Homo sapiens: one gene and its partner. The protein of the gene in region 2 interacts with the protein of the main gene of each other region in a biochemical or structural test. Each region holds a gene or a part of one and is shown on either strand. Other genes may lie near its edges.

Region 1 (3,156 bases), on a different chromosome or scaffold from region 2:
TTCATCCACTGCCAATGAAGTCAAATTTATAACAGCCACCTTGACAGTCGAAGCTAGGCCAAGTTAAAATAATTAATTCCAGAGAACTTCAAAGTGCATTAATCAGTTAATAATGGAGCAATCTAAACTTAAATAGTCGTGAGAAAAAAAGGAAACCCTGTTAAAAATTTTAGGGGTGAAAATATTGCAGATGAGGGTTATCAATCCAGTTCATGACAATGTAAAGAATGGAAATGACTACTCCAACATATGTCAGAGAAATGATAACTTTGAAGACTTTTAATTCACAGAGAATATATTCCTGTGGTTACTGGATGTTATCTTCCTTTCTTTTTAGCCAGTACCACAGCTCTCCCTCTCAAATGAAAATCTGATGTCAAAAGCTGTTTCACTGACCTCTATTTGGACTAGAAAGCACTCTAGTCTTTCTAGTCTTAAACTCCTTAACAATAATTAAATATAACTGAAGTTGTTGGATTATGATAAAACTATAAAGCATCAATTATATAGCGGAACATATAAAAATCACCAGAGACATCTTTAGATGAATTCAATTAAATTAATTCTAATTCTAGGCTAAGTTTTTTTTCCTTTTATTTATTTATCCCCCACCACGCTGCCCAAAAAAAAGACAGGGTCTCCCTATGTTGCCCAGGCTGGTCTTTAACTCCTGGGCTAAAGGGATCCTCCTGCCTCGGCCTCCCAGAGTGCTAGGATTACAGGTATGAGCCACCATGCCCGGCCCTAGGTTAACTTCTTAAAACAATGAAGGAATCACAGTGTTAACATTGTTTGTAAAGTGTAGTATTTGTCAGGCAACTGAAACAATCAGACTTCCAAATGAAGTCATTTGCAGGCTGTGACCAACTTTTCCCTGAATTCAAATTGACAAAACTACTTTGTAGAGATGCAAGAGTCTTGCCTCACTTCCAGGAATGATGTATGGATTCATGCGCCAGAAAGGAAAAACAATAGTCAAGTCAGACTAAAATGAGAGGGAGAACACAAGCCCGAATTTTGCTCACATCCCCAGAAGCAGGAGTAAGCTTGCACTTTTAACAAATGCCTCTTACCAAGAGGCTTAATAGGAAAATCTTGTATATTGCAGTTACCAAAGGACTTCCCTGCATGTCTGCAGAATGTCTAAAAGAAAAAAACACTACTCCCAAGTGAGACTTTTGACACACATAAAATATTGTTGTTAAAGGAATAAACTAGTGGAATAAGACAAGGCAAATTTCATTGTTGTGTTAAAATCTCATGTTAAGCAAGGTTCTGACTAGTCATTTGCAGACCTGATTTCTGGAAACGCTGAGTAGAAATCACTGGGAGATAAATCTAAATGAGAACATTAATTTACTTACACTCAGATAACTCTCTAAAGAGCCATTGTCCAATTTTACAAGATGTGCAACAGGCAGAGAAGGACAAACATTGCAAATAAGTTCTTGCCCATTCATGGTGCAAGTTCTCAGAAGTTACTCTTGTCCAAATCCTTCTGTTTCTTCTATGGCAAACAACAGCTTTTCCTTCAGTTGCTCATAGCTCTTGTATGGTGGCAGGTCCAGGCGATTAAAACTAAAAGCAAGAATTGTTAGTTTGAGAAAAGGAAATATGCAAAGAATCAAATGAGTAGTGTAGTATACTACTTTATACACTACTATAGAAGCACAAAAATATACTACTGTGCTTCAAAGGATACCATCAAGAAAGTGAAATAACCCAAAAATGGGAAAAAATATTTGTAAATCATATATCTGATAAAGGACTGGTATCCAAAATATATAAAAAACTTAAAACTCAACAATATTTAAAAATGAACAAAGGATAGAGATTTCTCCAAAGACATACAAATGACCAATAAGCACATTAAAAAAATGCTCAACATCCTTTACCATGCAAATAAAAACCACAATGAGATACCACTTCACACCTGTTGGGATGGCTATTATTTAAAACACCAAAACAACAACAACAACAACCAAAAAAAAAAAAAAAAAAAAAAAAAACAGAAGAAAACAAGAGTTGAAAAGGATGTGAGGATGTGGAGAAATTGGAGCCCCTCTGCACTACAGGTAGGAATATAACGCAGTGTAGTCACTATGGAAAACAGTATGGCGAGATTCCCCCAAAAAATTAAAAATAGAATTACTACATGATCAAGGAATTCCACCTCTGGGTATATACCCAAAACAACTGAAAGCAGGGCCATGGACAGATATATCTATATTCTACCACAGTATACCTATGTTTATAGCAGCATAAACAGCCAAAAGGTGGAAATAATCTAAGTGTCCATGGACAGATGAATGTATAAACAAAATGTAGTATATCCAGACTATCAAATATTATTCAGCATTAAAAAGGAGGAAATGCTGACACATGCTACAACATGGATGAAAATTAAAGATATTATTCTAAGTGAAATAAGCCAGCCAGGAAAGGACAAATAAGGTACGATTCTACACTTACGAAGTACTAAAGAATCATAGAAACAGTAGTAGAATGATGTTTGCCAGGACCTGGGGAAAGGGAGTCATGGGGAGTCATTGTTTAAAGCAGCAGTCTCCAGCCTTTTTGGCACCAGGCAATGGTTTTGTGGAAGACAATTTTTCCATGGACAGGAGTGGAGAGGGGGATGGTTTCAGGATGAAACTGTTCCACCTCAGGTTAGATTCTCGTAAGGAATGCACAATCTAGATCCCTCACATGCACAGTTCACAATAGTTATTGCTCCTATGAGAATCTAATGCCTCTGCTGATCTGACAAGTGGTGGAGCTCAGCAGGTAATGCTCATTCACCCTCCACTTACCTCCTGCTGTGCAGCCCAGTTCCTAACAGGCTGGGGACCAGGAGTTGGGGACCCCTGCTTTAATGGGTACCATTTCAATTTTACAAGATGAAAAATGTTTTAGGTCTGGCATGATGGCCTGTAATTCCAGCACTTTGGGAGGTCAAAGCAGGAGTATTGCTTGAGCTCAAGAGGTCGAGACCAGCCTGAGCAACAAAGTAAGACTCTGTCTCTACAAAAAGTTTAGAAATTGGCCAGGTGTGGTAGCACATGCCTGTCGTCCCAGCTACTTGGGAGGCTAAGGTAGGAGGACAGTTTGAGCCCGGGAGGTGGAGGGTGCATGAGTGGAGATTGAGCTACAGCA
Region 2 (3,656 bases):
CAGGAGGCTGAGGCAGGAGAATTGCTTGAACCCGGGAGGCGGAGGTTACAGTGATCTGGGATGGCATCACTGCACTCCAGCCTGGGTGACTCCGTCTCAAAAAAAAAAAAAAAAAAAAAAAAAAAAGAAAAGAAAAGAAAAAATCGGCTGGGTGCGGTGGCTTACGCCTGTAATCCCAGCACTTTGGGAGGCCGAGGCGGGCGGATCACGAGGTCAGGAGATCGAGACCATCCTGGCTAACATGGTGAAACCCCGTCTCTACTAAAAATACAAAAAATTAGCCGGGCGTGGTGGCGGGTGCCTGTAGTCCCAGCTACTCGGAAGGCTGAGGCAGGAGAATGGCGCGAACTCGGGAGGCGGAGGTTGCAGTGAGCAGAGATCGCGCCACTGCACTCCAGCCTGGTGACAGAGCGAGACTCCGTTTCCAAAAAAGAAAAGAAAAGAAAAGAAAAAACCAGGCACTGAGAAGAACTGTGTCAAGCTTTTATAAACATCAGCTTGTACACAAACAAGGACCAAGCCCACTAGAGACTGTTCTGCCCTGACTGAATGTTTAGCACCCACTCCTTTCTTCTACTCAGTGTGGGAGTCTAATGGGCACCTTTCATGGTGATTACTTCCAACAAGTGAGGCTTGATTTTTCTTGCGCAAGGCTTTGAACTCCACCTTCCAAGGCTTTTTTCAATCACTAAAACAAGGGACCTCCTCAATCCCTGTGCAGGTCAAAAGTTCAGCTGAGTTATTCCCACAGGGACTGGTGGCACCTCAGCCATACTTTGCGTGCACCTGGTAAGGTAGGAGTTCTCTGGACTCCGTCTGATCTGGCATCAGGAAGGACCCATGAGCCCCTACCCTAGAGCAGCACCCCTAAAAGAAACCCTCCACTTGCAGCCTCTCAAGTGCCAGCTTCATCCACTCTAATCTAAACAGACTTTATACTGGTTTAGGTACTTAAAAGGAAGCCATCAAAATATGAGATTAGGACTTCAAAAGAAAGTCTAGAATTAAATGAAAACCAGACACAGTCCATAACAAACTAGTCACTTCTAGGGGACAAAAGGGAGGACAACCACAATACTGACTCAAATATTCTTCCCAGAAGAATGAGCATGTTTATGTTCACACAGCCACACACAGACATGTGCACCACGCACAGCCACATCCAACTCCAGGGAATCCCAGGCCCACTAAAGCCAACTACGTGCCTTCATCTGGGAATACTGCCCTTACATCTGCCTCTGTCCCTCCCCTCACATCACCCGAGCAACTAGGCTCTAGCCCATGCCCTTCCTATAGCCTGGAAGGCCCTCTCCAACCTCCTTTCCTCCTTCAAGTCTGAGTTCAGGCACTAACTACTGCATGAGGCCACCTTAAATCCCACTCTCCCTTCCCCTTGTAGGCAGCCCCACAGTCCTTCATCCCTTCCAGGGACCAGTGCCTGCACCTCTCTGCACCAGCAGCAAGCCACTGGGCTTGTCTGTCCATGTGTGTTCCCACTGTGGATGGCAGCCCAGGGCTGAGCACTGGAAAGGCCTCCTCAAACCCTATACAGGTCAAAAGTTCAGCTGAGATGAGCCATTCCCACAAGGTCTGACAGGACCTCAGCTACATTTTTCGTGTACCTGAAAGATTCTCTGGATTCTGTCTGATCTGGTACCAGAAGCCCCCACCCCAGAGCAGCACCCCCAAAGACCCCCTCCGAGGAAGACACAGGCACATGTCTTACCTTGGTCGGTTTTGGTTGCTGGCTTCCAGTTTTCGGCACTAATTACTGGCAGACAGACCTGCCCCTTTTCGTCGATGTTTGGGTGATAGATCTTTGTTTTAAATGTGATCTTCGGTGGTTTGAATGGGTACTCTGCTGGAAAGTTGATTTCGATTCTGAAGGCTCCCTTATCATATGGAGGGTTGTCCTGGAAGGAAAGAGAGATCAAAATGAACACACCATGGTTCATAAACCTATGGCCAAGACAGGAATGTTTTAATTGTTTATCTGAAAAATCAATTTATTTCAAGGGATTCAAGTATCAACTGAAGCCCTGCCACCTTCAGGACAACCCAGCCACCCAAAAGTATTTCTAGAGCAAGCTATCTGCTAAACTGAGAAGGGGCTTGAGATTGATGTCCTGGTCTCTTCATACTTTTTTAAAAAATAGACTTTACTTTTTAGAACACCTTTAGGTATACAGCAAAACTGAGAGGAAAGGACAGAGAATTCCTAAATACCCCCTGCCCCTGAACACACACAGCTTTTCCCACTATCAGCATCCCTCACCAGAGGGGCAAATTTGTTACCACCAATGAACCTTTTACCTTAACACATCATTACCACTCAGCTTCCCTAGTTTATGTTAGGGCTCATACTTGGTGTTGCACATTCTATAGGTTTTGTGTGGTTATCAGACATGATAGCTGGAATCATGCAATATGTAGCTGCTATGTCTGAATGTATCTCCCCAAAAATCTTATGTTGAAACCTAATCACCAATGTGATGGTATTAGGAGTTGGGACCATTGGGAAGTGATTAGGTCATGATGGGATTGGTGTCCTTATCAAAGAGGCCCCTGAGAACTGCCTTGCCCTTTCCATCATATAAAGACACAGTGAAAAGGCACCATCTATAAACCATGAAGCCGGCCCTCAGTTGCCACTGAATCTGTTGGCACCTTGATCTTCAGACTTCCCAGCCTCAATAAGTGAGAAATAAATTTGTCGTTAGAAGCTATTTGTTCTTTTTATTATTATTATTTTTTCAGAGTCTGTTGCCCAGGCTAGAATGCAATGGCACGATCTTGGCTCACCGCAACCTCCGCCTCCTGGGTTCAAGCAATTCTCCTGCTTCAGCCTCCCAAGTAGCTGGGATTACAGGCACCCGCCTCAATGCCCAGCTAATTTTTGTATCTTTAGTAGACATGCGGTTTCACCATGTTGGCCAGGCTGGTCTTGAACTCCTGACCTCAAGTGATCTGCCTGCCTCGGCCTCCCAAAATGCAGGGTTTATAAGCGTGAGCCACTGTGCCCAGCCGTTACTTGTTTTTCCCCCACTTCATACTTACTTATTTATTTTTGACAGGGTCTTGCTCTGTTGCCCACTGGATGGTGGCGTGATCTTGGCTCATTGCAACCTTGACTTCACAGGCTCAAGCAATCCTCCCACCTCAGCCTCCCAAGTAGCTGAGACTACAGATAGGCACCACCACCCCCAGCTAATTTTTTTGTATTTTTATAGAGACTGGGTTTTGCTATGTTGTCCAGGTTGGTCTCAAACTCCTGGGCTCAAGAGATCTGCCTGTCTCGGCCTCCCAAAGTACTAGGATTACAGGTGTGAGCCACTGCACCCAGACTCATTTCTTCTTAGTGTTGAATGTCATTTGTCTAGATATACCACAATTTATTTATCCATTAACCCACTGAAGGACATCTTGGTTGCTTTCAAACCTTAGCAATTAATGAATAAAGCTGTTATAAGCATCTGTGTGGATACAAGTTTTCAATTCATTTGGCTAAATACCAAGGAATGTAATTGCTGGATCCAATGGTAAGACATATGTTTAGTTTTGTAAGAAACTGCCGGCCGGGCGCGGTGGCTCACGCCTGTAATCCCAGCACTTTGGGAGGCCAAGGCAGGTGGATCACGAGGTCAGGAGATCGAGAC

The links. Proteins that work in one complex are often made in the same cells at the same time.
Region 1: the proteins of UBE2L3 (region 2) and ITCH form a complex in vitro, tested with the Homo sapiens proteins (19 studies listed by BioGRID, with this or other methods).

The regions. Positions count from the first base shown.
Region 1 is NC_000020.11:34,506,117-34,509,272, reverse strand, and holds part of ITCH (E3 ubiquitin-protein ligase Itchy homolog), read right to left. Parts: intron 1,579-3,156; coding exon 1,479-1,578; 3' UTR 1-1,478. UniProt on the Homo sapiens protein: Acts as an Acts as an E3 ubiquitin-protein ligase which accepts ubiquitin from an E2 ubiquitin-conjugating enzyme in the form of a thioester and then directly transfers the ubiquitin to targeted substrates.
Region 2 is NC_000022.11:21,609,114-21,612,769, reverse strand, and holds part of UBE2L3 (ubiquitin-conjugating enzyme E2 L3), read right to left. Parts: intron 1,914-3,656; coding exon 1,727-1,913; intron 1-1,726. UniProt on the Homo sapiens protein: Ubiquitin-conjugating enzyme E2 that specifically acts with HECT-type and RBR family E3 ubiquitin-protein ligases.